Linked DNA regions of Homo sapiens: region 1 is linked to region 2. Evidence: fine-mapped expression QTL. A gene starts in region 2. The other region holds a variant in brackets. All regions are shown on one strand. Distances are between the middles of the regions.

Region 1 (5,371 bases), 32 kb after region 2:
CGCCAGCTCAGGTGACAGGCGATGTCACCTCCCGAGCCCCAGGTGAGCCCTCAGGAGCCTTCCTCCACTGCCCACCCACAGGCCCCGCTGTGAGGCGAGGCTGAGCGTCACCTCCCACCCGGCCCTCTCAGCCAGCTCACTCAGCCTCTGGGTATGGCGGGGCTGCCAGTCCTTGCAGGAAGTCTGATCTCCGGAAGAACAGAAGACCACAGGGAGACCCAGACCAGACCCCCCAACACCTGCTCCCCACCACCGCCGCTCGGCCCCCAGGGCTCCCTCACAAGCTCGGCCCTCCCCACACCATTTCTCCTTGGAAGGGTCCTAATGCCCCAGACCTGGCACCTGCAGCGTCTGTCAGGGAGCCCCTGAGTCCAGCCCCCTCCTCCGCAGACACCGACTGAGCTCAGCTGCGTGCAGGCCGGTACTGAACACGCACACCCGGGGAGCCGGAGCTGGGGGCGGGGCGTGATGTCACAGGAGCAAACACAGAGCCTGGGGCCAGGAGGTGGGAGATGGGGAGGGGGCTCAGGGAACTAGGGACACTTCACTTCCTGGGAAGAAACCGCAGACTGCAGACCCAGGCCAAGGCTGTCCAGGCTCCCAGGCTCGACTGAGGCTGGAGAGGGAGGGCTGAGAAGGGGCAGGAACTTGAGGGTCTGGGGGCCCCCATAGCTCAGCGGGTGAACAGGAGCCCCCAGGGCAGTCCCTGAAATTTCACTAGCCACTCTTCCTCATCTGCAGAGGAGCCTTTGGCCTCAGAGTCTGCAGACCACACACACATGCACACACTCACACGCACACACTTGCTCACATGCACACACTTATGCAATGCATGTACACGCACACGTGCACACATGCACACACATGCACATGCATGGGCACACATGCACACATCCACACACACAGACATGCTCACATGCACACACACAGACACACACACACACACACACACCCTCACATGCACATGCATGCACACACAGGCACACACATACATGCACACCCAGACACACTCACATGCACACACACACACGCACGCATGTGCACACACATGCACACACAGAATGCTTACATGTGCATAGTGCACACATGCACACACGCACACATGCACACACAGACATGCTCACATGCACATACATGCACACACACGCACACACACAGACATGCTCCCTTTGGTAGTAGTGAGGTGGGGAGGTGACCAGTCCAAACATGTTACAGGGCCTGCAGCACTTCTGAGAAGAACATCAGAGGCCAAGGACGCCACACAAGGGGAAGAGCCTCAGTCCCCAGAGTGTCCCCAACCCACAGCATGTACACCTGCAGCAAGCTGTGCCCTGCACAGGAAGGGAGCCCTGTGTGGCTGATGCGAGTAGGAGGGGAGACACGCATGCTGAGGGCAACAGGAACAAAGGAGGAAAGGGGGAGACAGAGACACACACACACACAGACACACACACACAGAGACATACACACACAGAGAGAGACACACACAGACACAGACACACATGGAGACACAGAGACACACAAACACACAGACACACACAAAGAGAGAGACACACACACAGACATACACACACAGAGACACACACAAAGAGAGACACATACACAGAGAGACAGAGAGACACAGAGAGAGAGAGAGAGAAAGGGAGGGAGGGCAAAAGAAAAGAAGGAAGAAAGGAGGTCAAAAGACAAATGACACACTGGGAGGGAAGTGGAAGCGTACGAGCCAAAGGGCTGATTTCTGCGCATTTAAAAAGAGTTCCTAAAAATCTAGGGGAAAATTAGAAAAATTCAGAAAACATGAACAGTTTACAGAAAAATTCTTACAAATGTCTCTTTAACTGCACGAAAAGAGGCTCAACCACCTTCATAGTCAGAAAAACGCCAATTAAAATTGCACTGAGATGTCTTTTCTCACCCCTCATATTGGCAAAATCCAGCAGTCTCGGCGGGTCACCAGGCCTGCCCTGGGGTGAGGCTGTGAAGAAACGCCCGCGCAGGCACGGCTGCGGGAATGGAGAGGAATCTGTCAGTGCCCTGCAAGACCGTGTCTGGGTTAGCCTTCCACCCGCTCCCAGGATTCCATCCCAGAGGCGTAGCCCCGACACACAAAATGCCGCAGTGTGGAGCTTCTCGATGGGGCGCTATTTGAAATAGCAGGGGTTGGGAGCCTCCCGACTGCCCATCACTGCACGGCTGTCCCAGTGCACTGGTGCACATCCCCCAGGGGGACCACGCAGCTGCGGGAAAGAGTGAGCCCGGTCCCTAAGCACTGATAGGAAGCCTTCTCCAGGCTGCATGAATCCATGTGAAAGTCTAGGGAAGAACGGCGCCATGGGTATCCTTGGGGATCTGTGGATATCCATGGGGATCCGTGGGGAATCTGTGGGTATCCGTGGAGATCTGTGGAGATCTGCGGGGGATCTGTGGATATCCACGGAGATCTGTGGGGGAAAAAAATCTGTGGATATCCATGGAGATCCGTGGGGATCGGTGGGGGATCTGTGGGGATCCGTGGGGATCTGTGGGGATCTGTGGGTGTCTGTGGGTATCTGTGAGGATCCGTGGGGATCCGTGGGGATGCCACCTTTTGTGTAAGGGGAAGAATGTAAATACAAACAA[C/T]TCTTTTATATATTTGCAAAAAAGAAACAATGACAAGATTATAGGTGAGAGGAGAGAACAGGGTGGGGGTAGGGGGACAGGAAAAAAAGGGAGATTTCTCAGAATGCACCTTCTCAAAAAGTCAAAATCAAAGCCTTGGTTTTGTAATAGTGTGTATGTAGTTTTCTGCATGCAATAAAAATACTAAATAAAAATCCCCAGAAACCGAGAATAAATGGAAACAAAGGAACCTCAAACTGTATATCAAGTTGGTAAGTTAATTTTACAGAAAAGGCAATTATTCCAGCAGCCTCAGAACACTGCACTTTGAAGATACATCCTGGTGGGACACACTCCCAGGACAGAAGGAGCTGCAAAGAAGTCTTGTTCTTAGTTCATAACCTTCTTCTTTGTAATAATGCTAGCCTTTTTATTTTGAAACTATTATGTTATAGGATAAAGCGAATATGTGAATATTCTTAAAAACAAAGTTTTTCAGCATAAAAATGAAGAGATACAGTTTTAAAAAATCAAGTTAAATAAAAGCCCTGAAATCCTGGTTTTGAATTGGAAAGAGGGCAAACATGTGATTTGTTTCCTTTTTTAAAAAGGATACTCAGCCTTGGCAACATGGTGAGACACCATGTCTACGAAAAAACGCCAGTGTGGTGGCACACCTGTGGTTCCAGCTACCACTGCTGCTGCTGCTGCTGGTGGTGGTGATGGGGCAGGGGTTGCGGGAGCGGAGGTGGGAGAATCGCTTGAGCATGGGAAGTCAAGGCTACAGTGAACTGTGATTGTGCCATTGCACTCCAATTCGTGTGATAGAGGGAGACCCTGATTTAAAAAATAATAAAGAAAAGGATACTTACATCCTAACTTTGCTAACTGCAGAGACATAGAGGCAATGCAAACCCCATAGCAATGAGCACACCTGTATCTACATTATGAGATCTAAGTACCATCACCACTGAAAGAACAGAGCTGCAGACGACCTGAGGCAGGACAGTATGGAATTAGGGCAACCAAGGGTTAAGGCAGAAGCAAGGGAACAGCAGGTGCGGCCAGTTCTAGACAGGACGAGGCGGCATACAGGCCACATCCTCAGTCCTGTGATGACAAGACAGAAGTTTCCACCTCAGCCTCTGATTGACTGCAGGCCGAGTTTCCACCTCAGCCTCTGACTGACTGCAGGCCGAGTTTCCACCTCAGCCTCTGATTGACTGCAGGCCGAGTTTCCACCTCAGCCTCTGACTGGTCACACGCCAATCCTTCATATATTGTAACCCACTGGAGGCCTCTAAAGGGCACCTAGGGGTGTTACCAGATTCTTTCAGCTTCATAAGAACCCTAGAGAACACTGCAGTCGGGGCTCTTGAGCTGCTTGCTCGAGCCTCTCCTGCTCTGTGGAGTGCAATTTCGCTTCAGTGAATCTGCACTTTTCGTTGTTTTTTTTTTTTGATGCTTCGTTCTTTTATTGCTTTGTTTGTACGTTTTGTTTAATTCTTTGTACAAAGAGCCTAGACAGCATACAGCCAAGAGTTTCTATCTGGTAACATATTTTGGAGAGCCAGCCAGGAGGTAAGCCCTGTTGTCTGGGGTTTAGATTTCCTTTCCTTCTTCTTTTTTATCTTCTTTTGTCAAAGCCGCGATCTGCGGGCATGGGTTAGGCAGTTAAAAGCCAGTAGGGTGCCTGCCGCTTGAAGTCTCTAGTAACCGGATAACTCGGTCATGGAACAGGACACCTAGGTCCTGCCGAGAGCAAGACAAATCCGTGCAACAGTCGGGTTTGTGTATGTGCAGCAATAATGTCTTTGAGATGATTTAATTCTTCATCTTCTAATTTCTCCCCTCGCCTTGCTAATGCTTTGTCGGGACCAGGGATTGCTAAACTGTTGCATTTGAGCCCCCATCACCATCTCATGCCCCTTTTGTTTATGCACGGAAAGTGCAGAAAAGGACGAGCTTAGGGAAAACCCCACGTCTTGGTGGTTCCTGCTCAAACAGTATTTCTCCTGTTCAGACCGCAAAGTAAATTACCAGCCACAGGGATTCATATACCACCCTCTGGTGTCGCTGGCTACAAGAAATACCCCACCAGCCTTAATGTTATTAATATTAGGATTTTTGAGTTTCATCCTGGAACAAATGAAGAGCTGGAAGTAAAGGGCCTACCATAACCCTGTGAAGAATGCAGGAAGACATGGTCCATCTAAATTGGTGGGACGTGAAAAGCCAGGGATTATATCCAGGTACAAAGGGAATCACAGTGGGCCACTGGCTGTGGAGAGAAAACATCCAAAGCGGCACTGGTGCCCACCTGAGGTCAGAGACGCCTGACACTGTAAGAGTGGACCCTGAAGGGGGGGCCTTGGGATGCAAGGCTAAACCTGAGACTTCCCCAGGGGGACGCCCCAGGCGGAAATTTCGGGTCCACAGATAAGTCCTCCTTAGGGTCTCGTTTCTCTCCCAGACTGCTATGGGACCCACCCCATCTATTCCACCTGATTCCCTGCCTGGCTGCACCCTCAACCATTGAAATCAATTTGACCCTGACAATCTGAGAAGAAAATGCTTGAGTTTTTTATTTTAATACTACTTGGCCACAATATCAGCTAGACAGTCAGGTGCAATGGCCAGACCATTGAAGGCTACATCGTAATACTAACCTACAATTATACTTACTTTGCAAAAGGCAGGGTAAATGGTCAGAAATACCATACAGTGAAGCCTTTATGGCTTTGTATCAGAATGCTTCAATCTGTAAAGCTCC
Region 2 (5,371 bases):
CCTCCCCCAGGCCCGTCTTTCCTGGGGGCGACGACAGCCTCCCTCCAAATCCCCTTCCCTCCAGACAGCGGAGAGGCCGACCTGGGGAAGGGCAGGGTGGGCCCGTGTGACCGCTGCAGATGGAGGAATTCCCATGGCAGAAGTTAAGGGTGAGGACTGGGTGTGGGGGCCCCCAGGTGTGTGGTGGGTATCATCTCTGCCTGGCTGTGCTGATGGGGATCCCCAGCCCCCATGAGGGCTGCAGGTCCTGGGGCGTGGCAGCCGAGGTCTGGACCCAGCGCCCACGTGCGGCAGTCTTGCTGCTCACAGGTGGTGGAGAAAGGACACCAAGGACACAGCCGGGAACTGAGGAAGCAACCGGGCCGGGGGGCCTGCGCTGGCTGGATCGCCCAAGACACTCCAAATCCATTCTCCAAAGCTGGTGCAGGGGCAGGAGGGGAAGGTACCAGACAGAGTGCTGGCAGGGCCGGGGGTGAGCCGGGTGGGGGTGGGGAGGGGCCGTGGGTCAGGGTCTCCTGGCCCCCATTGCTCCAAGGCCGGCAAGGAGGTTGAGCAGGAGGGCTGCGCCCACAGTTTCGGAGCTGCCCCGGGGGCCGCCTGCCCCCTTGCCTGTTGGGTCCTGGACTCGGGAGCTTTGCCAGGGTGGGACATTGCACAGGCTGGACTGGCAGCAGGTCATGGTCACCTGGGTCCCCTCCACCGTCTTGGTGATGGGCTGGCAGCTGTCTGTGCACCACGTGGAGTGGGTGGTCAGGAGGCCTGACTCTGGGAAGGGGAGTGGGGAACAAGTGCTGAGGATGGGCGGGGTCTCTGAGGTGGCTCTGCAGGGCTCTGTTCCGGGCCCCTGGCTTTCCCGCCGCCTGGGGGTGCATGTGCTGCGGCCCCACGCCCACTTACCGGTGTTCCCGTGGGCAATGAGGGTTGTGCAGGTCTGGCCATGTGAGCAGTTCTGCGTCAGGTTGCAGCGCTCGTCCCTGGGCAGGGACTTGCAGGTGTAGCACCGCAGCAGCACTGGGGACAAGGCGGGCTCAGGCCGAGGCCGGGCCCCCCAGGGTCTCCTCCCACGTCCCTGTCCACCTCCCCGTTCTCAGCTGTGCTCCCAAAGCCTAGCCTGGTGAGCCTCCAGCACCCACTGCTCAGATGGGCGGGCGACCCCTGACTTGGTCCTGTAAGCTGTGCTGTGTGCGTGAGCCTGTGTGTTTAGGGGGCAAGGGATTGCGGGTCAGGCAGGGCGAACTTCCCATCATCACTCACGTCCTGCGACAATGCTGCCCAGGCTCCTGCCGTGGTCACAGAAACCTGGAGGTGGGTCTGACTCAGTCCTGCCTCCAGGAGCACCAGGCCTGGCAGAGGAGGGCCTCACAGGGGACACCTCGTGGGTGTGTGGGGCAGGGCTCGTGCTGAGGGCAGGCTTGGGGCTCCTGGGAGGGGGGTGGGCTGTGTGTGGTGGGGCATGCTGGGGGCCCTGGCTAGGGAGGGGCTGTGTGTGGTGGGGCACGCTGTGGTCCCTGGCTAGGGAGGGGCCGGCCCTCGGGTTGGATGCGGCGATTTGCTCTGCTTTTCTCGGGATGGGAGAGAGCAGAGGGTGGCCCACGTGTAGGGGTGTGTCAGGTGGGCAGTGAGGGTGGGCTCTTCTTAGCCCTACTCTGCTCTGCTCTAAGCGGTTCCCTGGCTCCCCAGCCCGCAGCAGCCAATCCAGCCCTCCCCTGTACAGGACCGGCCCACCCTGCTGCTCTCTCTGCCCCACAAAACTGAACCCTACCCTGGGGCCTCTGTGCTTGTGTCTCCACCCTAGGCCCCCACTGAGCCCTTCTCTGCCTGGTGAACTCCTATTTAACCTCTACATCCTGGCACCACTGACCCTCCCAGCTGGTGGCTTCTTCCCCTGTTCCCTACTCTGGAAGGCAACTGAGTGTCATGGTGAGCAGCAGTGAGGGGTGTACTGAGTGTCCCCCACTCTGCTGGAGGCAAGCTCACAGCAGGACTGTGGCCTGCTGGCTTCCATCACACAGCCCCGCCCAGAATGCTCCAGGCAGATCAGGCAGCAGGGCTCTGGGGTTGGGGCGGCCATACCTCTGCTCCTGCCACCAGGGAGCCTGTTGGTCTCCTCCTCTTCCACCTCATCCTCATCTTCCTCGTCGTAGTCATCTGGCCCGTGGTCCTCGTCCTCTTCCTCTTCCTCCTGCTGTGTCTGCCCTCTCCCTGGCCGTGCAGGGATGCTTGTAAGCCTCAGCTACCCGGGTATGGAGGACACCTGCTCTGGGCAAGCATCGTGCCCCCAACTCCTTGGCCCTCCCCAGCCATCCTCGGGCCCCAGGGTGGCTGGGGAGGGCCCCTACCCTGAACACCCTACTCACCCTACTCACTGTCCTGCAGCCTACTCACCCTACTCACTGTCCTACTACCCTACTCACCCTACTCACTGTCCTGCAGCCGAGTGTGCCCTGGCATTGTAGTTACAACAGCAGCTGCTGTGGGCTGGCCCTTTATGGTAGCCCCTCCCCGCACCCCACATAAACAGGGGCGCAGATATTTGGGGACTCTCGGGGACCCAGGCCAGCTTCCATCCATGCTGCTCTGGGCTGGGGACTCCAGCCTCATCCCCTCCTTCTTCCTAAGCCCCTGCTGGGGGTCCCTGGAGGTCCCTGTGCTCCAGGACTGCTGTTGCTGCCCCCTCACCGCAGGGTTACCCTTTGCCCCGCACCTGGCCGCCCGAACAGCAAGAGGGCAAGCAGGACAGCCCCGAGCGCCTTCATCTCGCCGGACGCTGCTGTGTCCCTGACTCTGAGTCCTCCCGCAGGGCTCTGGAGCTGCGGTAAGTGGGATGAAGGGCATTGCCGTGGGCTTCCTAGTGGCCCCCACCAGCTCCAGCCTCAAACAATGGGCCTCACACTGGTCCCCAGCTCCAGGCGCCAGGCCAGGGACTGTTGTTTCCCTCCAGGACATCTGGGGCCAGAGGGGAAGGAGAAGTCATTGTGGTTGGCCTTGGAACGTCCTGTGCACCCGTGCCACGGCAGGTGGAAGGTGGTGCTGGCCCTCGCCTGGCTTGCCGCTCAGTGCCTCAGCCCTGCAGTGCAGGGCAGGGAGCCTCGCCCCGGAATGGGCCATGCCTGACACCCCTCAACCCCATGTCTGGGCTCCATAGTCACAGGACCTTGGGGTCACAGACCCTCTATTTGCTGGTCACTGGCCAAGCATCGTCATCCTAGAGTCAGCATCACACCCAGGCCCCTTTAAGAGCATTTAAGTAAAAACACAGTCAATGCCCTCAAGCTAAGGCTGCGTGCTCACCTCCTCCTCACCCACACTCAGCAATGCACTGCTAGGCCCAAGGCCTCCCGGCTGCCCCTCACTATCACCTCGGGTCTTTGCCCCTGCTGCTCCATCTGCAGTGCTGTTCCTGCTGGTGTCCGGTGGAGAGCTTTCTGGAGCTCTTGGGGGCCCGCCCCCTCGGTCTCTTGCTGGGAAAGCCATCAGCACCCACCTGCCTTCTGGCCTTGTGTGAGAGACGGGCTGCTCTGGGAGAGGCTTGGAAAGCCCAGGTCGCTCCCTGAGGCCACCCCCTCCTCTCAAGACCCCACCCAAGCCCTTGGGGGGTGCTGATGCAGAGTGCAGAGTCGAGGCTCTGAGCTGCCCCTCTCCCAAGGGCAGCAGAGGGGTGGGGCAGCGGCAGGGGCTGGACGTCCGGAGCCAGGGTCAAGCCTGAGCGTCTCTGTGTGCCTTGGTGCTTGGGCCAGGCACTTCACCTACTGAGGCCTCAGTTTCCCCGACTGTCAATGGGTGGGGTGGGGCATTTTCTGGCCGGCCACCTGTAACAGAGGTTGAGTTGGTTCTGGAGTGAGCTACCTGGGTTTAAGACCCGGTTCCTCCTTCCCCCGGCTGTGGGTTCTGGACTAGCCCCTTGGGTTCCCCAGGCCTCAGCTCCCTCATAGGGTGAGGTGACCATCAAGGGTCAGTACCTGCTGGGCTTAGGACAGCGCCTGAGGCTGGGAATACCTGTCTCTAATGTCCCAGCCACCGAGTCAACCATCCTTCCTTAATTCACCTGAACCTGTCATTCTTTCCACTCTACCGGCACCCACCCAGCATCTAGCCCTTCCCCAGCCAAGGCTGCAAGGTCACTTGCCAAGCCAGGGTCTCCCATAGTGGTGCCCACGCCACAGCCGGACACGCCCCGCCAGCCCCAAACTCTTCATACCTGATGCCTGTCCCCCCCAGCCCCGTCCCGCCCCGCCCCGCCCCGCCCTTCCCTGCCCCTCCGCGCGTGGCCCCACCCCCACCCGCCTCCCTGCGCCCTCTCGCCCTCGGCCCGCCTCCCCCACGCCCCGCCTCCCCCACTGCCCCGCCTCCCCCACTGCCCCGCCTCCCCCACTGCCCCGCCTCCCCCCACGCCCCGCCTCCCCCACTGCCCCGCCTCCCCCACTGCCCCGCCTCCCCCCACGCCCCGCCTCCCCCACTGCCCCGCCTCTCTCACGCCCCGCCTCCCCCCACGCCCCGCTTCCCTGGTGCCCCGCCTCCCCCACACCTGTCTACCCCATGCCCCGCCTCCCCCACTGCCCCTACTTCCCGTCGCCCCGCCTCCCCATCGCCCCGCCCCCATTCGCCCCTTCTCCCCAGCGTCCCACCTCCCTGTCGACCCGCCTCTCCTGTGCCCCGCCTCCCCCGTGCACCGCCTCCCGTCATCTTCACCCCTCCTCCCCCACGCCCCGCCTCCCTGTCGCCCCTCTTCCCTGGTGCCCCGCTTTCCTGCTGCCCTACCTCCCCCGCGCCCCGCCCCGGCTACCGCTACAGGCCCTTGAATCTAGTGCTGCAGGAGCTGCTCCTAGGAAGGGCGCTACTGGGATTCTCAAGGGGCCTCCACCTGCCGCCTCCCCTCCACAGGGGCCCAGGCCCTTGCACGTTGCCTCCCTCTGGGCCCAGCTCCTCTTCAGCCCAGGTGCAAACTGCCCAGCCCAGGCAAGTGCTTATTGCGAGAATCACCTAGGGACAATCAGAGCACATTTGATTCGCAGATTGAATTAAATTTAGTGCTCGCCACTGAGAGGCTGTTCCCTCTGTCCCGCCCCGGAAAGGCTAGTGGGTCTGGTCCAGCCCCTACAGAAGGTGCCACCTGGGATGGTGCGCAGGTGTGAAAGGGGACCCGCAGTGGCAGACACCTGGTTCCCCAGCACTGCCTACAGCCGGCAGGTAGGCGTGGTGGGCTCTGTATGTGGAGCCCACCCCCTCATCCCACCCAGGCACCACGCAGCCTCCCTCAAGCCCCCAGGGCAAGGTCATGACCTCTCAGACACTCCAGGGTGAAGATATGATGCCTAAGACCTTCAGGGCAGGGCTGTGGTCCCCCAGGGCCAGGGCTAAGGTCTGGTGGTCC

The links. PIP is the estimated chance that this variant, and not a neighbour inherited with it, causes the effect.
Region 1: its variant is the best candidate, but not a certain one, in a credible set for the expression of GPIHBP1 in prefrontal cortex (CommonMind, PIP 0.66).

The regions. Positions count from the first base shown.
Region 1 is chr8:143,178,239-143,183,609 of GRCh38, reverse strand. No RefSeq gene overlaps it. Among named protein-coding and RNA genes, the nearest start is that of LY6H, 21 kb to the right of the region's middle. The variant C/T (reference allele first, on the strand shown) is at 2,620.
Region 2 is chr8:143,210,653-143,216,023 of GRCh38, reverse strand. GPIHBP1 (glycosylphosphatidylinositol anchored high density lipoprotein binding protein 1) reads right to left here and starts at 2,806. Exons shown (of 4, transcript NM_178172.6): 1 at 2,705-2,806; 2 at 2,074-2,202; 3 at 898-1,011; 4 at 1-765. The coding sequence starts at 2,756. The coding sequence ends at 506.